Linked DNA regions of Homo sapiens: all the other regions are linked to region 2. Evidence: fine-mapped expression QTL. A gene starts in region 2. Each other region holds a variant in brackets. All regions are shown on one strand. Distances are from middle to middle. Region 1 overlaps USP39 (ubiquitin specific peptidase 39). Region 2 holds the start of USP39 (ubiquitin specific peptidase 39). Region 3 holds the start of RNF181 (ring finger protein 181).

The links.
Region 1: its variant is fine-mapped to the expression of USP39 in whole blood (TOPMed, PIP above 0.99).
Region 3: its variant is fine-mapped to the expression of USP39 in whole blood (INTERVAL, PIP 0.99).

Annotation. Positions count from the first base shown.
Region 1 is chr2:85,644,520-85,652,693 of GRCh38, reverse strand. USP39 (ubiquitin specific peptidase 39) reads right to left here. Exons shown (of 13, transcript NM_006590.4): 11 at 7,611-7,746; 12 at 4,678-4,764; 13 at 3,411-3,933. The coding sequence ends at 3,886. Among named protein-coding and RNA genes, the nearest start is that of SFTPB, 20 kb to the left of the region's middle. The variant AG/G (reference allele first, on the strand shown) is at 3,592.
Region 2 is chr2:85,611,246-85,619,419 of GRCh38, reverse strand. It overlaps USP39 (ubiquitin specific peptidase 39), which reads right to left and starts at 3,234. Exons shown (of 13, transcript NM_006590.4): 1 at 2,957-3,234; 2 at 131-200. The coding sequence starts at 3,224. C2orf68 (chromosome 2 open reading frame 68) reads left to right here and starts at 7,354. Exons shown (of 4, transcript NM_001013649.4): 1 at 7,354-7,542; 2 at 7,634-7,752. The coding sequence starts at 7,436. RefSeq lists enhancers at 3,441-3,490, 3,521-3,570, 7,013-7,242 and silencers at 6,854-7,026, 7,513-7,582, 7,202-7,583.
Region 3 is chr2:85,590,161-85,598,334 of GRCh38, reverse strand. It overlaps VAMP5 (vesicle associated membrane protein 5), which reads right to left. Exons shown (of 3, transcript NM_006634.3): 2 at 6,473-6,610; 3 at 4,929-5,387. The coding sequence ends at 5,178. It overlaps RNF181 (ring finger protein 181), which reads right to left and starts at 2,590. Exons shown (of 5, transcript NM_016494.4): 1 at 2,486-2,590; 2 at 1,686-1,816; 3 at 1,404-1,513; 4 at 1,157-1,231; 5 at 627-890. The coding sequence starts at 2,571. The coding sequence ends at 831. RefSeq lists a silencer at 2,559-2,698 and enhancers at 4,642-5,141, 5,142-5,643. The variant T/C (reference allele first, on the strand shown) is at 5,085.

The sequences.
Region 1 (8,174 bases), 33 kb before region 2:
AGTGACTCCAGCTGAAGCTGCTGTCCCAGATGTATCTTTTTTTTTTTTTTTTTTTGAGACTGTCTTGCTCTGTCACCCAGAGCTCAAACTCAGCTCACTGCAGCCTTGACTCAAGTGATCCTCCTGCCTCCCATGTAGCTGGGACCACAGGTGCATGCCACCACTCCTGGCTAATTTTTTTTTTTTGAGGGATGGGGTCTCACTTTGTTGCCCAGGCTGGTCTTGAACTCCTGGGCTCAAGCAATCCTCCTGCCTTGGCTTCCCAAACTGCTGGGATTACATCTGTAAGCTACCACGCCTGGGGCCAGATGTAGCATCTTTACTCATACACAACAGCTCTTGGCACTTGGTATGGAGCTACCAAGTTAGAATCAAATTGGTATTTCTCCATACCAATTTATAAGGATCACCAGAAGTAGTTTGCTTTTACCTGGCAGGGCCAACAGTATACCTTCACAGTGTTACCTCAGGACTATGTCAGTTCTGCTCTCTAGCATAATACAGTTCACAGAGATCTTGATCATCTTGACAATCCACAAAATATCACACTAGTCCACTACAGTGATGACACTATGCTGTTGGATCTGATGAGCAGAAAGTACCAAGCGCTTTAGATGCCTTAGTAAGACATAAATAAGAAGTTGGGAGTTAAACCCAAAAACAAGTCAGGGAACCAGGCACGGTGGCTCACGCCTGTAATCCCAGCACTTTGGGAGGCCAAGGCGGGCGGATCACGAGGTCAGGAGATTGAGACCATCCTGGATAACACGGTGAACCCCCGTCTCTACTAAAAATACAAAAAAATAGCCAGGCGTGGTAGCAGGCGCCTGTAGTCCCAGCTACTCAGGAGGCTGAGGCAGGAGAATGGCGTGAACCCGGGAGGTGGAGCTTGCAGTGAGCCGAGATCGCACCACTGCACTCCAGCCTGGGCGACAGAGCGAGACTCCGTTCTCAGAAAAAAACAAAACAAACAAACAAACAAACAATTCAGGGGCCTGCCACCTCAGAGACATTTCTCGGAAGTCAACAGTATAGAGTTATGTCAAAATATCCTCTCCAAGACAGGTGGCTGTACCTCATACCACCACACACACACACACGCACGCACGCACGCACAATGTTTGATAGGTTTTTCTTGGCTTTTGGAGACCACATATACATTTGAGCAGCACAGGCACCCAGTAGCTCCACCTGGCACTCTCCTCCCTGGACAGTTTTATAGCAGAGGCCTCCAGGGAGACACCTGTGAATGGCTTTCCTGAGTACACTACAAAGCAGATTTTTAACGAGGTTCAGAGGGCATATTTTTAGCAAGGTCTGGATCTCAGCTTTGGACACTGTCAGCCCCAGAACTAGTGGCAGCTCTTTGTATCTGTTATTCCTACATTCTTTACTTTACTTGTTACTAACTAATCCCGTTTCTACAAACCCGTTGTAGTTAATAATTATTGAAATTAAACTTTCCCTGAACAGATTATTATACATGAATTTCTCTAACTGGATAGTGTAATCTTCACCTCAAAAATAGCCAAGTTTGAAAGAGAAACTCATGGCAGGGCACAGTGGCTCATGCCTGTAATCCCAACACTTTGGGAGGCCAAGGTCAGCAGATCACCTGAGGTCAGGAGTTCAAGACCAGCCTGACCAACATGGTGAAACCCCATCTCTACTAAAAATACAAAAATTAGCCGGGTGTGGGGCGCACACCTGTAGTCCCACCTACTCGGAAGGCTGTGGCAGGAGAATCACTCGAGCCTGAGAGGCAGAGGTCGGCAGTGAGCTGAGATCACACCACTGCACTCCAGCCTGGACAAGAGTGAGACTCCATCTCAAAAAAAAAAAAAGGGAAACTCACAAGCTCAATTTTTTTTCTTTTTTGTAATGACAAGGTCTTGCTCTGTTGCCCAGGCTGGAGTGCAGTGGTGCAATCATGGTTCACTGCAGCCTCAAATCCTGCGCTCAAAGGACCTTCCTGCCTCAGCCTCCCAGATAGGTGGAACTACAGGCACACACCACCATGCCCGGCTAATAGGGTCTTGCTATGTTGGCCAGGCTGGTCTTGAACTCCTGGCCACAAACAATTCTTCCACCTCAGCCTCCCGAAGTGTTAGGATTACAGGCAGGAGCCACCACACCTGGCAAGCTCAGTTCTAAACAATGTTAAGTTTGAGTTTACTTTAAAACACCCAAAAATAGGGCTGGGCACCATGGCTCACGCCTGTAATCCCAACACTTTGGGAGGCCGAGGCGGGTGGATCACTTGAGGTCAGGAGTTCGAGACCAGCCTGGCCAACATGATGAAACCCCGTCTCTACTAAAAATACAAAAATTAGCTGGGCACGGTGGTGGTCGCCTATAATCCCAGCTATTCAGGAGGCTGAGGCAGGAGAATCACTTGAACCCAGGAGGCAGAGGTTGCAGTGAGCTGAGATCATGCCACTGCACTCTAGCCTGGGCGACAGAGCAAGACTCCATCTCTAAAATAAAAATTAAAATTAAAAAATAAAATAAAATAAATAAAATAAAATAAAATAAAAAAATTAGCCGGAAATCACTTGACCCTGGGAGGTGGAGGTTGCAGTGAGCCAAGATTGTGCCACTGCATTCCAGCCTGGGCAACAGAGCGAAGTTCAAGAGTTTAGAAAAATCTGGGATTAAGATGTGTTTATGAGTCATTTCCATAAAAATGCATAGCTGAAATGGCCTAGGGAAAAAGTAAACAGCAAGAAGAGTGACGCTAGGACTGAATCTTGAGAAAACCCAAATTTAATGGCTGGATAGAAGAGATAAGCCTCCTAAGGAAATACTGGAGCTTCCAGAGAGGTAGAGGAAAGTGAGGACAAGGTTGTGACCAGGTAAAGGGTGGCACCACAGGAGTGCGGGGCTCCTGTCTCCATTCAACAGAACTTGCTGGGGCTGACTGGCTGCCTCCAGCTGCTTCCCATATCTTTGGACCTGCCACAGTGCTCATGCCAAGGCCACCCTTCTTCTAGGCTGCTAGAGCCCACGACTGAGCTTGATGGGAGCCATTTCTGCTGAATTGTCTGACGGAATCTTTGCCCTGGGGCTCCACACTGGACTGGCTGAGACCACCTCAGAATTGCACTGTAGTGAGAAGCGCTTCCTATTTCCTTTTTTTCCTCTTCCCTTACTCATTCCTGCACTGCAGCTGGAAACTGCCCACCTCTGGCCCTCTAGTTAAGCACAATAATAATGTATCCCCTTGACTCAGGTATTTTTTTACTTAGAAACAAATGCATCCTAACTGACACACCACCCACAAGCTGACAGGAAAGGGCGAGCGTGATGTGCACCAGATGTCAGACTGTAGGGTAGAGAGTTTGTGAAGATTAAAAAGGAAAATATTTTCCTCAGCCAACCACCAAAGGAAAAGATATAAAACAAGAGGCTGGTTTAAAAACAGGAGACTATTTAATCCATCTAAAAATACAAATCAGGAAATGGGGGGAACCATAGGAAAATCCTCCACCTCTAACAGAGCGAAGTTACTGGCTTTCTGCTTGCTCCAAGAATCCCAAGGCTTGATGTTTGGAAGGAATTATCTGTTCTTCAACTACTCCCAGATACTCA[AG/G]ACATAAGTTACACACATCTGGAGAAGGGTTCTGCCCTGCTGAAGCTAGATGGGAGCTCAATGCATGGGAGAAAGGAGCATCAATCTAGAAAAAAATGATCAAAGAACAGCTGAGTGACAGTGTGGGGCCATCCCAGGCAAGTGGGCTCTTGGTGCTCTGGTGTAGCCAGAACCCATACAAGCTGGGCTGGCCTAGGAAGCCCACCAGCCAGCCTGTGTTCAGCTACAGCTTCTGTGTTCTTATTTACCATCATCAGCCACAGCCCTTGGGAGCAAAGCCCTAGACGCCTCCTTCAAGCCCCCTGCTGGTTGGTTTCATCATTATCTCGCCTCTTCCAAATCTGTAAGAAATGAAAACACAAACTGAAGTCTAGGAGGCATTCAGTCAACAGACACTTATCAAATACCTATTCTGTGCCAGGCCATGGACAACTTGTCACCCCATTTACAAATCTGCTATACCCCATTTGGAAATCTGCTACAGTGGCTACAGCCACTGAGGAGAAAAAAGTTATCTCTAGAAGGAGAGGTATCACTTTCTTCTTACAAAGCTATGGCTTTTGTCTCAATCTTCCTTCTTTTGCCAGGTACTAGGGCAGTTACATAAAGAGAAGACAGAGATGCTCTGTGCTCCATGGGTCAATCCAATGGAGAGGACAGACAGGCAAAGCGATATGGCCGGCACTAAAACAAACGTCAAGTAGAAAGCGCTGTGGGGTCACAAAGCTGCCTGGGGCTCTGGGGAGCACTTCGTGGTCGACTTCTAGCCAGCCTCCCTGATGAGTCTAGGTTCTTCCTCCTCGAAACCAGACCGCACACTTCTGCAAAACTAACCTGGCCATAATCGCAACTTTCTTTGCTCACTCATACATTTTCTACACTTCCTTATACTTCTTTTCTGAAAATCTCTGCTTGACTTTCAGGGCCATACATTCTGCCCCCAACTCACTACTAAGTACTTCCCAATAGGTACCTGGCCCTCCAACCAAGGTCCTAACTCTATCCCTCTTCCTGCCTTGGCCCACTCCTCTCACTGGCCCCATACGCCACCTATTTGTGGCTCACTAAGCCTGTGGCCAACCCACCTGAATGTAAGCCTCTGACAGTGTGATCATCTGGGGAAGGATGTCAGTCACCTGGAGGTCTTGTAATTCATACCATTTGCCTGTCCCCTGCAGAAAGTATGAAGAGCTGGGTTAGTCTGCTCTCTAAAACCAAAAGGGTGTAGAAGGAAAGGATCATAGCCAAGACTAGAAAAATTAGAAGAACAGCCACTAGACATCATCCAGCAACAGTCATAAAGAAGAGGGTACATGACTTCTTCTGGCCATGATTCAATTAATAGGACTTTTGGTGTGTCAATCATGGCAAACTCAATTCCTGTTGGGAATTTTTTTAAAGCACTGTTTTTTGTTTGTTGTTTTTTTGTTTTTTTTTTTTTTTGAGACAGGGTCTCACTCTGTCACCCAGGCTGGACTACAGTGGTGTAATCACAGCTCACTGCAGCCTTGACCCTCTGGATTCAAGCGATCCTCCCCTCAGCCTCCCAGGTAGCTGGAACTACAGGTGTGTGCCACTAAAACTGGCTAATTTTTTTTTTAATAGCAATGGGGTCCCACTGTGTTGCCCAGGCTAACTCCTGGTCTCAAAAGATCCTCCCGCCTCAGCCTCCTAAAGTGCTAGGATTATGGGTATGAGCCACTGCGCCTGGCCCCTTGAAGTACAATGGAGTCTGAAACACTTCTGTACATCTTTTTAAAAGGAATTTAGTGGACACTAAAGATGAGAAAAGAGGAAGCCATCTAATCATCACCTATGATGTCTCCTTCCTGCTCAGAAATGACAGACTAGACATTCTCACTTATGAGGTACACAGTGTCAACCACTGAGAGAACCTAAATATGGACATTCCTGGCTGGGCACAGGGGCTTACGCCTGTAATCCCAGCATTTTGGGAGGCCGAGGTGGGCAGATCACTTGAGGTAAGGAGTTTGAGACCAGCCTGGCCAACACAGTAAAACCCCGTCTCTACCAAAAATACAAAAATTAGCCAGGCCTGGTGGCAGGTGCCTGTAGGTCCCAGCTACTTGGGAGGCTGAGGCAGGAGAATCACTTGAACCCAGGAGGTGGAGGTTGCAGTGAGCCAAGATCATGCCACTGCATTCCATCCTGGGTGATAGGGTGAGACTCTGTCTTAAAAAAAAAAAAAAAAAAAAAAGCAACAGGTCATCAAGAAAAGGTGTCCTTGGTGGACACTGTCTATCACACTAACCTGATTCCTTTGGCCTAAGAAACCAGTGCTACAAATACAGCAAAACGTATCTCACTTCATGCTTCCATGAACAAGGAAAAAATGTTTCTAGATTAAGGCAGAGGCACCTCTGGCCGCCCACCTGTCTTATCCAACCAAAGTTCTAAGAAATACCAAAGACCATTATTGTAGAATATAAATATTCCAGATCCTCTGGATATTACAATAGTTGAGAATATAGGAAACATAAGGAAAGCTCAGGATCACATAAGTAAGTTCCCATTCCTGCTTCAAGGACGAGTTAAGAACATGGGCTTTGAAGCAGAGTACCTGGGTCAAATCCTAATTCTACTGACTTGAGGTCAATTACTGAAACTCTGAGCCTAGGTCTCCTCCTCTGTAAAAAAGATGATACTGACATCTGTCTTGGAGGTGTGTTTTAATGAAAGAAATGAGATTAATGTACATTAAGTAACTGGCGTACTGCCTAACCACAATAAAGCACTTGATAAACAGAAGCTAGTTAAGATTAAACCCACAGTTCCAGAAGAGGCTAATCAAATGAGAACAATTTATGCTAATAATCTATGTGATATCAAATATATCTCAAGTACATGTTTTATCTGTTTTCAACTTGAGACAAATCCACAACATTTTTAAGATGAAAGGGAGCCTCTAAACCAGTGCTTCGCAAACTTTAATTTCTTACAAATCAGAGGGTCACGTTAAAATCCAGGTTCTGATGTGGTAGGTTTGAGGGGACTGAGAGTCTGCATTTCTAACAAGCTGATTTCTAACAAGACTGATGCTGATGTTATTGGTCCAAGGATGCATCCCACTTTGGATGGTAAGGCTCTAGTCTAGGGCAGAGGTTCTCAACCTTGGCTGCATATCAGGGTCTCTCAGGGAACTTCAAAACATCAAATGCCAGCCAGGCATGGTGGCTCATACCTGTAATCCCAGCAGTTTCAGAAGCTGAGGCGGGAGGATTGCTTGAGACCAGCATGAGCATCATAGCACAACCCCATCTCAATTAACTTGAAAAATAGAAAAGACATCAAACAGAAAAGACATCCACCTCCAGACAATCTAACAGAGAGCCTTTAACCTTAATGCTGACTGATGTTTAGGGTCAGATAATTCTTTGTAACACGGGCTGTCCTTCGTGTTGTAAAATATATACCAACATCCCTGGCCTCTGCCCCAGCTGAAAACTACTATTATAACCGGCCTGGTGTGGTGCCAGGCATTGGGATTTTAAAAAGCTCCCGGTTGGCGCGGTGGCTCACGCCTGTAATCCCAACACTTTGGGAGGCCGAGGTGGGTGGATCACAAGGTCAGGAGTTCAAGACTGGCCTGGCCAAGATCGTAAAACCCCGTCTCTACTAAAAATACAAAAATTAGCCGGGCGTGGTGATGGGCGCCTGTAATCCCATAATCCCAGCTATTCGGGAGGCTGAGGCAGAGAACTGCTTGAACCCAGGAGGCGGAGGTTGCAGTGAGCCAAGATCACGCCACTGCACTCCAGCCTGGGCTACAGAGCGAGACCCTGTCTCAAAAAAAAAAAAAAAAAGCTCCCAAGGTGAGTCCAATGTGTAGCCAAAATTGAGAACCACTGCCTTAAACTAACTACTGACAGCACTATTACTTGCAGAGTCCCAAAGCCAAGGCCAAGCAAGGACACACTGAAGGGAGCTGCCCTCTGAGATGCCAAAGAAACACCTGTTTTTGCCACTCTGTGCCATGAGACGGTCAGCAGCCACTCACATGATGAAGCACGTGGATCCGGTAGGAGCCCTCGGAGGGCTTGCCGTCATGCACGATGTTGGCAATGAGGTCATAGGTGGTATTCTTGTGTACTGCTTGTACTTCTTCAGACAAGTATTCTCTCAGATCCACATTTCTGTTAATGGTTAAAATAAAGCCGGAATAATCAGACAAAGGCTGTGAGGTTAAGGAAACTGTCCTACACAAACGGACCACAAAATTGTTCAGCCCTATTTTAGGACCCTTTCTCTGGGTAGGCTTGCAGAGTCAAGAAGGTCCAGGTGCGTTGGAATTCACAAAATATGCCAAAATGAATGACAGGGTTACACAGCTTCCCATATGATTTAAAAAAAAAAAAAAGAATGACAGGCAGTGGCTCATACCTATAATCCCAACACTTTGAGAGGTCAAGGTAGGAGGACTGCTTGAGCCCAGGAGTTCAAGGCCAGCCTGGGCAATGTAGTGAGACCCCTACAAAAAAAAAATTAGCCAGGCATGGTGGTACATGCATGTGGTCCTAGCTACTCAGGAGGCTGAGGTGAGAGGATCACTTGAGCCCAGGAG
Region 2 (8,174 bases):
GAAGCACAACTCTCTAGACAGGTTCAAAAAAAGTAAAGTTTGTCAATGTGTTGTTCACTGTACAGTCCAAAAACTTTCTGCACAGATTCCATTGTTCTTGTGCTATACTCAGCATCTCTGTCCTACTGACCTGTTAATGGTGTCCAGGTACGGGCAGTGGCGGCTCCTCCGGTCCTCAGAATCCACTCGGCCATTCTTTGCTGAAAGGAAAATCATCACAGGCTTTGAAAATGGGAAACCTATACTCAGGGCCAACTAACAGAACAAAAAAAGAAACAGAAATGGGAAAAACTAATCAAGATGAGTTCCTATTGTTTGGGTGGCAACAATATCGAAAAAAAAGTCCACTAGCCGGGCGCGGTAGCTCATGCCTATAATCCCAGCACTTTGGGAAACCGAGATGGGTGGATCACCTGAGGTCAGGAGTTCAAGACCAGCCTGGCCAACTATGGTGAAACCCCGTCTCTACAAAAAACACAAAAATTAGCCAGGCATGGTGGTGGGTGCCTGTAATCCCAGCTATTCAGGAAGTTGAGGCAGGATAATTGCTTGAACCTGGGAGAAGGCGGTTGCAGTGAGCAGAGATCGTACCGCTGCACTCCAGCCTGGGCGACAAGAGCAAAACTCCCTCTCAAAAAAAAAAGAAAAGAAAAAAGCCCACTAATAGAACAAGCCACAAACTGGGAGAATATATTTGGTATACATAAAATCAACAGAAGATTTGTTTGCATTTTACATAAAGAAATCCCATAAAGCATGAAAAATATGAAATATGTCACAAGCACTAAAATAAACTAATTGTAATACAAATGTACCATATAGTTGTGTGTTTCGTTTTTTTTTTGTTTTTTTTTTTTTGAGACGGAGTCTCGCTCTGTCCCCCAGGCTGGAGTGCAATGGCGCGATCTCAGCTCACAGCAACCTCCGCCTCCCGGATTCAAGCAATTCTCCTGCCTCAGCCTCCCGAGTAGCTGGGACTACAGGCACAAGCCACCACACCCAGCTAATTTTCATACTTTTAGAAGAGACGGGGTTTCACCATGTTGGCCAGGCTGGTCTCGAACTCCTGACCTTGCGATCCACCCTCCTTGGCCTCCCAAAGTGCTGGGATTACAGGCGTGAGCCACTGCGCCCGGCCACAAATGTACTACGTAGTTTAAAGAGTGGCTGGGTGAGTGGCTCATGCCTGTAATCCCAGCACTCTGGGAGGCAGAGGCAGGCGGCTCACCTGAGGTCAGGAGTTCAAGGCCAGCCTGACCAATATAATAAAACCCCATCTCTACTAAAAAATACAAAAATTAGCCGGGCATGGTGGCATGCACGTGTAATCCCAGCCTACTTGGGAGGCTGAGACAGGAGAATTGCTTGAACCTGGGAGGCAGAGGTTGCAGTGAGCTGAGATCGTGCCATTGCACTCCAGCCTGGACAACAAGAGTGAAACTGTCTCAAAAAAAAAAAAAAGAATGTACATGTGTATCTATAAATCTACCACTTGTCAAAAACTTGAGTGGGTCTCAGATCTTACCCTACTCGCAAGCTAACAAGTTAGCCTGTCACAGTTTTATGAATGCTGATGGAAAGCATGTGACTACCTGGCCTGAAATAAAGGACAGTTTATTAGAGCAATGACAGTAGCCGGAATATAGCATTGGTGTCAGTTTTCCAAGTGAATTCCCACAAGGCAAAGTGAGGAGAACCCATGCACACAGTGAGCTGCCTTACAGGAGACGAACCCCGTGCTTAGAGAATCTGAACCATTAACCATTTTTTCAAACGAGGTCTCGCTCTGTTGCCTATCCTAGTCTTGAACTCTACCTCATCCTATAGAGTAGCTGCGATTACAGGTGTGAGCCACCACACCCTGCCCCAAATCTTTTATAAGGGATTGTGCCCTTGTCTCCTCGTTTTGTAGGGAGACACCATTTCTATCTTCCAAGGCTGCTCACTACACGAACATCCTTAACGAGAGTCCAGGAGAAAAGGCAGTCAGGCAATGGTCGCAGTACGTGCACAAACTCAAGAGACTAATGGAAAATTGTCTCCAGACTTTATTCAGCTTAAAAAGTGCTACATAATCCATACTTTAGTAGAGGTGCCTATTGCTCAAGCATTCTGAATATCTTGATTACAGAAATTACAAGACCTTAGATGTAAAAACTGAAGGAAAGCCGTGCACGGTGGCTCACGCCTGTAAACCCAGCACTTTGGGAGGCCGAGGTGAGTGGAACACTTGAGTCCAGGAGTTCGAGACCAGCCTAGGCAACATAGCGAGACTTGCTTCTCTTAAAACGCAAAAAAAAAAAAAAAAATTCTTTTTTAAAATGGAAGGAAGTAACACTTGTAAAATCAGCACTGAGCCCCCACATCGGGCATTCGATAAAGGGAAGCTGCTGTTGTTACGATTTTTGCAGTTAGAAATACCATACGTTTGGCCGGGCACGGTGGTTCACGCCTGTAATCCCAGCACTTTGGGAGGCCGAGGCGGGCGGATCACGAAGTCAGGAGATCGAGACCATCCTGGCTAACACGATGAAACCCCCTTCTCTACTAAAAACACAAAAAATTAGCCGGGCGTGGTGGCGGGAGCGGTGGTGGGCGCCTGTAATCCCAGCTACCTGGGAGGCGGAGGTAGGAGAATCGTTTGAACCGGGGAGGCAGAGGTTGCAGTGAGCCGAGATCGCGCCACTGCACTCCATCCTGGGTGACAGAATGAGACTCCATCTCAAAAAAAAAAAAAAAAAGAAAAAAGAAATACTATACGATTATTGAGAAGGGTACTGTCTTCATCAGAACAAGTCGAACAGCAGAATCGTCGAGTCTGGATCCCTCCTCTTCTCCACCCCAACCCCACCCCTCCCCCAACTCCGGCGCAGTGACCTAGCGGAAGATTAGAGACAAGAAAAAAGGACGCGAAAAAAACAGGCTCTCGCGCCTAGCCCGGCCCGGCCCCGCGCACCTCGCACCTCCCGCTCAGGCTCCGAGTCCTCATCGACCTCGCGCTCCCGCTTCACCCGCACAAACGGGACAACAGAAGCCGGGGCCTCGCGCGCGCTCGCCGGCTCGAACTCCCGCTTCACGCGCACAGGGCTGCCCCGGGAGCTCGCCGCCTCAGGCTCCCGCTCCCGATCTCGCTCCCGCTTGACGCGACCGGAGCTGCCCCGCGACTCAGACTCTCGCTTCCCGCGAGTGGAACCGCGAGACTCCCGCTTAGACCGGCCGGACATCTCCACTACCGGCCGAGTCGTCCAGCGCAGGCGCCAAGCACGCTCGAGCGCGCGGCACAAGGCCAATCAGGAGAGGGGCTGGTAGCGAGCCCCGAACTCTCTACGAGTCGCCACTGGGGACAAATCACGCTGCAGAAAATTTGTGGGCGGTGCTGTTCCTGCACTGGCTTCCTCTCCCCTTAGAACCTTCTGTGGGCCTACTGTCGTTTACAGTTTACTGAGACGGGAACCTTTACTGGCGACAGTTTTCTGGATAAAAGCTGTCAGGCCGGGCGCGGTGGCTTACGCCTGTAATCCCAGCACTTTGGGAGGCCGAGGCGGGTGGATCACCTGAGGTCGGGAGTTCGAGACCAACCTGACCAACATGGAGAAACCCCGTCTCTACTAAAAATACAAAATTAGCCCGGCATTGTGGCGCATGCCTGTAATCCCAGCTACTCGGGAGGCTAAGGCAGGAGAATCGCTTGAACCCAGGAGGCGGAGGTTGCGGTGAGCCGAGATCGCGCCATTGCACTCCAGCCTGGGCAACGAGCGAAACTCCGTCTCAAAAACAAAGAAGCTGTCATTCGGCCCCAGATTTGTGCCTCGAAACCACCACCGTGAGGTCGTTTCCCACAGTCTCCGCGGCTTGGGGGCTGACAATCCTGCACAGGAAAACTAGGCGACATTCCCAAATCATCCCCTTGACAGCCCTAATTCTACTTTTAGAAGGTTCTTGGTACCATGAAAACGCAAATGCCCGGTAAAGGCAGATTTACCATGAAGCTAATAAAGCTCTAACCTCAGGACCTGCCTTGAACTTGTTTGCTTGTTTGAACCGTTCCATTGAGGTATAATTGACATACAACAAACTACATGTTTAAAGTGTGCAATTTAGGCCAGGCGCTGTGGCTCATGCCTATAATACCAGCACTTTGGGAGGCCAAGGCGGGCGGATCACCTGAGGTCAGGACTGGAGACCAGCCTGGCCAATATGGTGAAACCCCATCTCTACTAAAAATACAAAAATTAGCCGGGCGTGGTGGCACGAGCCTGTTAACCCAGCTACTTAGGAGGCTGAGGCAGGAGAATCGCTTGAACCCGGGAGGCGGAGGTTGCAATGAGCCGAGATCGCCCCATTGCACTCCAGCCTGGGCAACCAGAGTGAAACTCTGTCATACCCACACCACACCACACCACACCACACCACACCACACCACACCACACCACACCACACTGTGTGCAATTTACTGAATTCTGACTTGCGGTATATGTCAGAGGCGTTTCAACCAGACCAACTCCATCTTGAGTGAGGGTTAGGAAAATGAGGCTGGGCCTTGACAGGCTGCATTCCCAGGAAGTTAGGTATTCCTAGCCTAGAGATGTCTACAGTTAAGGGAACAGAGAGATAATGTTTACTAAACAGATCCAGACTTGGGAGTGTCCTAATATCCCAATATCTGGAGAATAAAGGCATTCCTAATTTTGCTTTAAAGATAATATTTCTTCTTGCAAAATATAATAATAAAATTAATCCTTTATCACAAACCCTTGTAGCAGAGCACATCTCCCCATGATCTTTTTATCCTATATATAAACAAGCATTGTAGCCATGGTGGATGCGTTCCTCCTTTTACTTTCAGGAACGCCCTATTCTGTCAATGGAGTAGCTGTACTTTCACTACTTTACATTTTATTTTTTTGATACAGAGTCTTGCTCTGTCACCCAGGTTGGAGTGCATTGGTGAGATCTCGGCTCACTGCAACTTCTGCCTCCTGGGTTCAAGTGATTATCCTGCCTCAGACTCCTGAGTAGCTGGGATTACATGCACCTGCCACCATGCCCGGCTAATTTTTGTATTTTTAGTAGGCACAGAGTTTCACCATGTTGGCCAGGCTGGTATGGAAGTGCTGACCTCAAGTGATCCGCCCGCCTCCCCTTCCAAAGTGCAGGGATTACAGGCATAAGCCGCGACACCTGGCTACTTTACTTTCTTAATAAACTTGCTTTTACTTTGCACTGTGGACTCACCCTGAATTCTTTCTTGCACAAGATCCAAGAACCCTCTGCTGGGGTCTGAATAGGGATCCCTTTCCTGTAACATATACACCCATGAAGCCATCACCACAATCAAGAGACGGGATCTGGGCCCAGTACGGTGGCTCACACTTATAATCCCAGCACTTTGGGAGGCCTGAGGCAGGAGGATCACTTGAGGTCAGGAGTTCAAGACTAGCCTTGGCAACATAGAGAGACCCCCCCCATCTCCACAAAAAAATTTTAAAATTAGCTGGGCATGGTGGCATGCTATTCAGGAGGCTGAGGCAGGAGGATCGTTTGGGCCTGAGAGGTGGAGGCTGCAGTGAGCAGTGATTGCACCACTACAATCCAACCTATGCGACAGTGAGATCCTGCCTCAAAAAAATAAAAAAATAAAAAAAAATTTAAAGAATCTACCCAGCCCCAAAGATATCCTCTTCCTCCCAGAGAACCCCCACAAAAATCAACTGATCTCTCGGTCACTATAGATTAGTTTGCACTTCCTAGAGTCTCATATAAATGGAATCATACAGAGTCCCTGGCCTCTTTCACTGGGCATATTTATTTTATGATCCATCCATGTTGTTGAGCTACAGATCTTCCTTTGGATTGCTCAGTAATATTCCATCGTGTGGCTGGACCACCATTGGTCCCTGTTTTTTGTTTTTGTTTTTTGTTTTTTGATTTGGAGGTTGGACTGCAGTGGCTCGATCTCGGCTGACTGCAACCTCCGCCTCCCGGGTTCAAGCGATTCTCCTGCCTCAGCCTCCCAAGTAGCTGGGATTACAAGCACCGGCCATCAAGCCCAGCTAATTTTTTGTATTTTTTTTTAGTAGAGACGGGGTTTCACCATTTTGGCCAGGCTAGTCTCGAACTCCTGACCTCTTGATCTGCCCGCCTGGGCCTCCCAAAGTGCTGGGATTACAGGCGTGAGCCACCACGCCCGGCTCTTTCTTTCTTTTTTAATGTATTTTTTTCTTGTAGAGACGATGTCTCGCTGTGTTGCCCAGGCTGGTCTCAAATTCCTCCCTCCAGCGATACTCCCACTTCGGCATCCCAAAGTTTTGGAATTACAGACATGAGCCACTGCATCCAGCCGTTTGTCCCTGTCCTAATCATGAATTCCTGATTTTGACTTTTGTAAAAGGACTTGAGAATTTTACACGCTGTGACGTGAACCCAGTGGTCAGAAAAAATAGAAAAAAAAAAAAAAGGGGCCGGGCACGGTGGCTCATGCCTGCAATCCCAACACTTTGGGAGGCCGAGGCAGGCGGATCACCTGAGGTCAGGAGTTCGAGACCAGCCTGGCCAACGTGGTGAAACCTTATCTCTACCAAAAATACAAAACTTAGCCGGGCGTGGTGGCACGCGCATGTAGTCCCAGCTACTCGGGAGGCTGAGGCAGGAGAATCGCTTGAACCCGGGAGGCGGAGGTTGCAGTGAGCCGAAATCACGCCAATGCACTCCAGCCTGAGCGACAGAGTGAGACTCCTTCTCAAAAAGAAAAAAAAAAGGAAAAATAAATAAAAAAGAAAATAATACACCCGTAGGTCCCTCAAAAACCCTGGGTCCTCCCGCGGGGACAGTTAAGCCATCGGCGCCGTGAGCAGGAGGCAAGCCGGGCCAGGAGAGCCTTCGCGGCGCCTGCGGCCTGGGCGCCGCTGTTGCCCTGCCTGAGCACTTCAAGGCCTCACAATCCATTTGAGGTAGGTGCTCTAGGTGTTCCCATTTACTAATGAGGAAACTGAGAAGTGGCAGCGTTACACAGTCAGCCAAAGTCACGCAGATGGCGATGGATTGCACAGCATCCTATTACCAGAAAAAAGATGGGAAGGCACCGCCGTAAGCATCGAGTTGTGTTATAGATGATTTGCATTTTTCTGAAGGTTCTGGTATCAGCTGTAAGCCGAAGTCCTTGTTTCCTATTGATATGTTACGAAAAAACAAACAAAAAAAAACAAAAACAAAAGCCCTCCGTCCGGGGGGTGGAAGTCAAGCATACCCTACTCCACCCGACCCGACCAGACCCGAAAACTCCGTGCGCTGCATCGCTTGGCCAGGCCGGGGCCTCCCAGACCGGAAGTCAGGATGCGGGGCCGGAAGCTGAGCAAGGGGCGGCGCGGAGCTCTGTGGGCGGGTGGCTGTTGTTGGGGCCGTCGAGGCGGCGGCGACTCTGCGTCCCCGGCTCCTGATGGAGGCGGGGCCGCATCCCCGGCCGGGGCACTGCTGCAAGCCTGGGGGGCGGCTGGACATGAACCACGGCTTCGTGCACCATATCCGACGGAACCAGATCGCTCGGTACCGCCCCGCCCTGCGCCGCCGCCGCCACCACTCCTGGCCTGGCCTGGCCCGGCCCGACAGTCCCTGACTCCCGCTCGGCTCCCCGCAGGGACGACTATGACAAGAAGGTGAAGCAGGCGGCCAAGGAGAAGGTGAGGAGGCGGCACACGCCCGCGCCGACGCGGCCCCGCAAGCCAGACCTGCAGGTGTACCTGCCGCGACACCGAGGTGAGGCCGCCCGCCCCGCCTGCCTCCAGCCCGCGCGCTCTTCCTGCAACGCACTCCCCTTCTCTATAGGGAAAAACCACTTCTTACTCCTAAGGTTCAGCTCATCTCGTCTCTTTCCGGAACCTCCACCTCAGCGCTCCCAAATCTCCGCTGAATGATTCTCACCAAGAACTGGGACGACTCATAAGCCCCCAGTTAAGCATCGCTGTCAGAGTATCGGGGAGCCAGCAAGAAGTTTATCTGCCGGTTTGCCCCACCGTGCTGTATTTTAGTAAGGTGCTCCGCTACCTAGCAAAGAGAAAGTCTGGCACAGCGATGAGCGACCAGCACATAATTGCGGAATGAACCCAGTAAATGGCCTTTCCCCAGCTTCTCTGCTACCTAGAGATCACACTGGTTAATATATGACGGTCAATTTTTGT
Region 3 (8,174 bases), 21 kb after region 2:
CTCACCCATCCCCCACTCAGAGTCTGGTTTGAACTTTGATTCCTTAGGAGGCATGGGGGGAAGGTGGGGGTGGTACAGAGAGCAACTTTAAAATATTAAAAGTGGCTTTCTCAATGGAGCAAAAAGAAAACCTGTGGGATTACAAAGTTAACTAGACATTGCAGTGGGAGGAGGGTGCAGGCTAGTTTATCAGCTTTTTTTTTTTTTTTTTTTGAGACGGAGTTTTGCTCTTGTTGCCCAGGCTAGAGTGCAATGGCATGATCTCAGCTCACTGCAACTTCTGCCTCCCAGGTTCAAGCAATTCTCCTGCCTCAGCCTCCCAAGTAGCTGGGATTACAGGTGCGTGCCACCATGCCCAGCTAATGTTTGTATTTTTAGTAGAAACGGGGTTTCACCATGTTGGTCAGGAAGGTCTCGAACTCCTGACCTCGTGATCCACCTGTCTTGGCCTCCCAAACTGCTGGCATTACAGACATGAGCCACTGCACCCAGCCTAGTTTATCAGCTTTAAGTAATTAACTGGGTACCAGACCCTGACACATTTTGCCTTCCAACCATGAACACATAGGCCCAAGCCCTGGCTATTGCAGTAATCCAGTTCTTTACCACTGCCATGAGTCCAGATGGGCCAGCAGGGAGGAAAACCGCAGCCTGGTGCCTTCTGCGATTTAGGATCACCTTCCCCAACAGAAGTAGAGACCTGATGGAGGATGCAGAGCCCCTGGCCAGGTCTGTGATCAATACAGCCTCAGGGTGGGTAAAGAAACCTTTAATGAGGATTCAAGGTTAATAAGGAAGACGCAGAGGGCCAGCACTCAGCCCCAACCTCCTCACGTGTACATGGCTCCATGGAGGTTCTCCAGTCGGTGTTGCTGCTGCTGTTTTCGAGCCTGAAGGAAAGAAGGCATGCTGGGCAGGGGCCAAAACTGAAGGCCTATGGGTGAGGGGATGGGCAGCTATTATGGGGCTGGCTCTGTTTTCAGGCCTCTGGCGTCTGCATTGCTGAGGCTCTCACCACAAATCAAAGTCACTAAGAAGACAGCCAGAGCCAGGGATTCTGAGGCCTACCCAGTCCTGCTGAGGTGGGAAGTGATGGCAGCGGGGACAGGACTCAGGGAGCCCATTACGACCCCTCCACTTAAGCATCAGCCCCTACCTTATCTCGTCTGTGCTCCTCATAAGTGTCGTCATCAGTGGGCAGCTCATAGCGGCACAAGGGACAGGAATTTGTCTGAGAAAAGTAGAGTAGTGTTCTAGCCTTGGTCTGATCTTCATAAGCTGATAACCACCCTCCCCTGCTCCCAACTGCCACTCTTCTTCCATCCCCCAGCAGTCCATGAACAGAAAGAAGCTTGAGTACTGGGCCCAGGGCACGGTGAGAGCTAGAAGAAGAGAAGCAGTACCTTGCTTAGCCAGGGCAGAATGCAGCTGGAATGGAAAAGGTGATGGCAAGGCATCTCAATGGCAGTCTCCTCCTCCTCAAATTCCAAAAGACACACGGGGCACTTGAGCTCTTTAGGAAGGAGTGCTGATCAGGAGAGCTGCTACAGGCTCTGCCTCCCAAGCTCCCACTCCTGAAGGACACTTGCCCCCACCTGACCTGGAAAACTGAAGGACCAGACCACAGTCTGGCTTGGGGAAGGGGTGGGTCTGGCCCAAATAGCAGAAAGAATCAGTGTCCTCACCAGCCTGAGAGCCTCTGATGACTGTCCTGGGGAGGTTCTCAACCACAGTCTTGGCAGCTGGTGGAGGCAGGTGGTGGTCCCAATCTACTACCAACCCCAAGTCTTCAAAGTCCATCCTATTGAAAAGTGACCTGGGGAAGGGGATGTAAAGTCAGAACAAAGGAAAACTATGCTTTTTCTTTGTCCCCATAATCCACTGGACATTAATAAACACGCTGCCCAGCTAGTAGGAATAATAGCTACCCTTAGTAGTTAGTAGATGCTCACTAGATAAAAAGCACGATGGGAAATAGTTTACAACTGCTATCAGACCGCCCCAGCACGTAAAGTGTTTATTCCCATTTTACACATGAGGCAACAGATTCAGAGAAGTTACTCAGGCTACGCTGAATAACCTGGTAGAGCCCAGATTCCAAGACCAAGCCAGATTCCAGGTCCAGTAACAGCAGTGCCTGCTGTTACTGATGAATATACCCACTCACAGCACACGGCCCCAACCCCGCCCCCATGCCTCACCTTCTCTGAGACCTCCCAGAGCCTGCTGTCCTTCCGCCCCCACGCCCACCACTCTCCAGCTCCAATCTTTCCCGCAATCCCCTTGCCCCAGGCCGGCCCAACGGACGGCCCAAATTATCGAGATGCTCATCCCCACACCCCTCAGTCTCGCCGCCCGTACTAACACTCCAGATTACTCATCTGTCCTCCCCAGAATCCGCTGCCCCTGGTAATCCGCCTTCTCCAGCCAGCCCCAGCCCAGAAACCTGCTGGTTGGACCCTATCCCCAAGCCCCGCGCACCCACCTTGCGAGCTCCAGCAGCATGTTGGTTCGCGTCTCCTGCTCAGGGTCCGACGGCTCGCAGTCGTGTTCATCGAAATAGGACGCCATGGCTGCCCAGCCTTCTGACACAGCCCTCGGACCCTGCTCGATAGCGGCCTAGCGGCGCTGGCCAATAAACTGACGAGCTGAGAGAGGCTGGCCAATCAGAGTATCCGAGGGACGGGCATAGTGGCTCGTTAAACAGCACGGAAAGCGGAAGTACTAATTCGGCCCCCTCTCATTGGCTTGAACAAGTCAGGTGACCAGAGACTAACGCCAATGATGGAGATCTGGCTGGTGAGGAATCATTTGTTTTGGAGTCGGAGCCAAGACTGAATTCCCGGGGATTTCTGGCGCGATCGCGTCCAAGTGTCTGGTGTGTAAGGCTCTTCAGTCTGCCCTGAAGCTCAGAGGGCTTCGACAGTACAGATGCTAGAGGCCTCTGCGAGCAAAGGCGGCGCTGGCCCAGGGGTTCAGGTTCCTGCGAGCGTTGGCCCATGGCGCTTCCGGATGCGCTGTCCGGATCCCCGCCGGACACTTCTGCCCCCGCGGCCCTCTAGTTGGTTCACCAGTTTGCGTTTGATTCCTGCGCATTTCTTATGTGTTAGGCATAATAATAAAGGGTGGGGCAAGCCTCCCCAACTGAGAGAGATCTCTTTGCCGGAGAACCTGGGGCCTCAACCAGCTCATGGGACTGTTACCTTCAGCCCGTTGCTATCCCTAGCTTCTGTAAAACTGCTGGCTTGTACTAAGACCTTTTCATTCCTGGCTACACATGAATTCCCAGAGGAGAGAATGGGCGCGGAGGAGCTTTAGAAACACCCGTGTCTGATACCTTCGAAGATTCTGATTTAACTGATCTGTGGTGGGGCCTGGGCAATGGCACTTGTATAAATTATGCAGGTGAAGCAGGTTTAAGAACCACTGCACTCAATGATTTGGATGATAGGTACTATTTAGCATCTAGAACTGTTAGTCTGATGTATGTTTTACACGCTCGATCATCCCCTCAATAGACCCAGGAGCTAAGCGTCATTATGCCCTTTTTACCTCAGAAGTGGCTTGCCCAAATTTGCAGTCTGTAAGTGGTGTTGCAGACCAGCTGCAGGGCCAAGTGCTTTCCTCCATCTTTCCCAAGAGAGGAAGACGCTAATGCGCTCAGTAAAACTAACACGCTCTGTAAGGGGTGAAGCTCCACACAACTCAGGCTTATTCTGGTTTCTGTCAGTAGCGCTCACTTTACCCAGCAAGGAACTGCTTATTTTACACACTTGACCCTGAATTCCCCTTGCCACTCACACCTGAGTTTGAACTGCAGCTAAGTAGCCCAGGCAGAGGCTGCCCTGTTTCCACAGTCTTGGTGTGGCTTTATTTCCTTCTTCCATGCCTTTGCCCAATGATCTTTGCTATGGCCCTGAAGGCACTGCCTCCCTGGCCTATATGGCCCTGTAGCTTTGAAAAGCCTGAATTCAGGCTGGACATGGTGGCTCACGCCTGCAATCCCAGCACTAAAGGCAAGAGAATTGCTTGAGCCCAGGAGTTCGAGACCAGCCTCGGCAACATAGACCCCGTCGAAAGAGGGAGGGAGAGAAGACACAGGAGAGACCCCGTCGAAAAAGGAAGGAAGGGAGGGAGGGAGATGGGAATACCAAGGAGTGCTTTAAGGTCCCCATCTCTTGCTGTCACTTCCCCCATCTGCAGTCTGATGTAAAGCTTGAGGTAGATAGAATGTGGAAAGAGAAATTGAGGAGTGGGAAGTGTTCAGAGGGGAAACCATTTATCTGAAGGTGAGAGCCTTATGAAAAATTTTTTGGGCCAGGCGCGGTGGCTCATGCCTGCAATTCTAGCACTTCGGAAGGCCGAGGCAGGTGGATCACCTGAGGTGAAGAGTTCAAGACCAGCTTGGCCAACATGGTGAAACCTTGTCTCTACTAAAAATACAAAAATTAGCCAGGTGTGATGGTGGGCACCTGTAATCCCAGCTACTTGGGAGGCTGAGGCAGGAGAATTGCTTGAACCCAGGAGGTGGAGTTTGCAGTGAGCTGAGATAGTGCCATTGCACTCCAGCCTGAGCAACAGAGCAAAAACTCTGTCTCAAAAAAAAAAAAAAAAAATTGGTGAAGTGCTTTCTTCTTTGTCATCGCATCTACAGTCTCATTGGTCCTCTAAGCATCCCCAAGATGACAGAAAAATAATAGATTTCATTCTCAGAGAAACAGGCTCAGATGGGGAGGACTGGTTCAAGGGTCTGCTTTGGGGGCCATTGTGTTCTTGCATCCACACTCCCTGTCTGTGTCGGGCTGGATCAAGTAGGGAAGGGAGAGGAAGGAGCCATCTCCCAGGGGTGGAGTCCTTTGGGTGATGGGCTTTTTAAGCAGCCCTAGGGGTAGAGACAGATGGGATTAACCAACCTGGGGACCTTCACACACAGATACCAGCTTTTAATCAAACAGCAGTTTTTACTGAGCTCCAGGTGGGGCTGGCCCAGCATGGCCAGTACAGCAGGCTGCCCTCAAGGGCCAGTCTGTGGCATGACAGGAAATGCAGGGGTGCACATGTTGGGGCTGCCCTTTGGCACTCAC[T/C]GGGGTGGGTCAAGGGAGAGCAAACACCAAGGTCCTCTGGAGACCAGAATCGGCCAGTGCAGCCATTTGGCTTCTCCTTCAGGACCAGCTGGGTCAGTTCCCAGGCCCTGAGGCAATGCCTGCATCCTGGGTCCGTGGGGCACTACTGCTGTCACTGCTCTGAGGGAGAAAGACGACCAGCAGCACAATCAGGATGATGAGCAGGACACCAACCACCACCAGCCCCACGCAGATCCGGTAACGGATGTTCTCCCAGCACTTCTTCTGGGCCAGGTTCTGTGTAGTCTTGTTGAAGGTTGAGCTCTGCGGATACCCCCAGACACAAAGTGGGAGTTAGCTGGCACCCTCTTGGCCTGGGAGCCAGCTCCTCCCAACCCCATCTCAGTAAGGCTTAGTCTCCTCCTGCATCCTCCCCATCTTGTCTACTTTCTTTCTTTTTTTTTTTTTTTTGAGAAGGAGTCTCTCCCTGTCACCCAGGCTGGAGTACAGTGGCACAATCTCAGCTCACTGCAACCTCTGCCTCCCGGGTTCAAGCAATTCTCCTGTCTCAGCCTCCCTAGTAGCTGGGACTACAGGTGCACACCACTGCGCCCGGCTAATTTTTGTATTTTTAGTTGAGATGGGGTTTCACCATACTGGCTAGGATAGTCTTGAACTCCTGACCTTGTGATCTGCCCACCTCGGCCTCCCAAAGTGTTGGGATTACAGGCGTGAGACACCGCGCCCGGCCTTGTCTGCTCTCTTTCTATACCACCTGCCGTGGAACCCTCCCAGCCTGACTCATCTCAAACACCGGTGTGGCCCTTGACTTTCAGCCCTAGTGTCTCACCCTCAGTTAACAATGCCAGTACTCAGGCTGGACACAGTGGCTCATGCCTGTAATCCCAGCACATTGGAAAGCCAAGGTGGGAGGATCTCTTGGATCCAGGAGTTCAAGACCAGCCTGGGCAACATGGTGAGACCTCATCTCTACAAAAAATCAAAAATTAGACAGGCATGGTGGTGCAGGCTTGTAGTCCTAGCTCTTCAGGAGGCTGAGGCAGGAGGATCACTTAAGCCTGGGAGGTAGAGGCTGCAGCAAATATGATTGTGCCACTGTACTAGCCTGGGCGACAGAGTGAGACTCTGTCTCAAAGTAAAAAAGAAACAAAAAACGATACCAGTTTTCTACCTTTAAGAAGGTCCACAGCTTCAAACCAAGGCCTTCTTATCTTGTGGGGTCTATCTGTTGCATGTCTAGGCTATGGGTGCCTGAGGAAACCCAGAGGCCCCACACTGGCCCTCAAGAAGGCCTCAACCCCACCAAGGAACTGGAGATCCTGAATACAGCCCAAGAGAGACTTTCCCAATCCTCTCCCCTCCCCTCCATGCTCCCCCAGGCCTCACACCATATCCAGGAGTTGGTCTGAACGCTGCTGCAGTTCGGCCAGCTTCACACCACGCTCCAGGACCTTGCCGAAGTTGTTACGCATAATTTCCGTCACCTCGTTCGCCTGCTGCTGGCACCGCTCCAACTCTATTCCTGCCTGGACACCAAGCCCGAGGTCAGGGCTGCATGAGGCCCCCACCTGGCCCTCATCTGCCCCTGAGATCTAGAAGCCTCCTTCTCCCCCTGTAGGTGGGTACAGCATGAGAGTAACAGCATCCTTCGTGTAAGGGTATGATGTGTGCGGAGTGAAGGTCTGGCCTTCGGGGTGAGTGCGGCACACCTTAAGTCTCACAGGCTCCTCCCCTTGCACGTCAAGGCAGGGCCTAGGACCTAGGTAAGTCCCGGCTTCCAGCACCTCAGCTTCCTCTAAGCTGTCCCAAGGTGGGATCTTCCCAGGACCCCACCCTCCCACAAAGCTGATTCTTTTCTCACCTGCTCCAGAATGGCGTCTACCCAATCAATGCACAGCTGCCCTAAGGTTTCCCACTGGCCTAAGAAGGCAGCAAAGAATGGGTAACCAAGCTACCTGGCTGGAACACACAGGGAGGAGACCTACCCTACAGGCTAGAAAGGTAATTTTGAAGCAGCACACATCATAGTCTCTGCCTAACCCCTCTATCCCCAAACTGAGAAGCTCAGATCTTCCTCTTTGGGCCTCTGACTGGTCAGGCCAGTTCTGCCTCCTGGCCTGATCCTGCTCCCTATATCACTGCTCCAACTTCCCTCTCCGTCTGGGAACCTCAGTGGTACCGGTTTTTGGCCTCCAGCCTTCCACTCAGCTGGGGTCCTCACTGGGGTCCAACTTACAGAGATGAGACTAACTCTTGGATTTCCCAGCCTGGGGGGCAGCTTTGCCTAACAGAAAACACCAGCTCATTTCAGAGGACTGGGAAGGGAGGTCTTGGATCCAAGCTGGGGAAGGTTGAAATGACAGGGGAGAGAGAAAGTCTGGGTCATGTGCAAGAAAGGCACTGGGCTTTGGGTGCACGTAACAGAGAGAGACACCAGGCAGGAGGCCCTGGTATAAGCCAGAAGCCTAGGAGCAGGGACATTTCAGGGAGATGAATACCAGTGGATTAGCAAACCACAGAAACTCCTTCCTCTTAGCCTACTTCCCCACAGCCCATCCCTGTTCCCTTCCCCTCCTTACAAGAAGGGCAAGCTTCTTTTCCTGCCAGCCCACGTCACCCATTGTCTACAACAGACATTTTGGCACTTGACTGAATTCCACTTAAAACCAGAAAACTTAAGTGTTAGAAGAGATCTGGTGGTCACAGAGGGCTACCTCCCACTCAGCCAAGAATCCTCCTTCAGGATCCTTGCAGCTGCTTGGTATACAGCCTCCAAGAATTCCCACTGTATGAGTCCTATCTCCCCAGCTGGACCACAAACTCCCAGAGGGAGGGCAGGGAGCAGTGCCCTGCCTTTGTCCACCACCATCCCACCGGGAGGCCAGCACAGTGCTGACCATTGCAAGCAAGGAATCAGTGAGTGGGCCAATTACGATACAGCCTAACCAAAAGCAATTCTTATTCTCAAGAGATGTTCTCCCAGCATGTTTTTCTAGCCCTGCATGAGTTTCGAGGGGCAGGCATTTGAAACCCAAATAGGTCAATATTTACCCATGAGCTAGAAAAGCAACCTGCTTCAAGAGAGGTCAG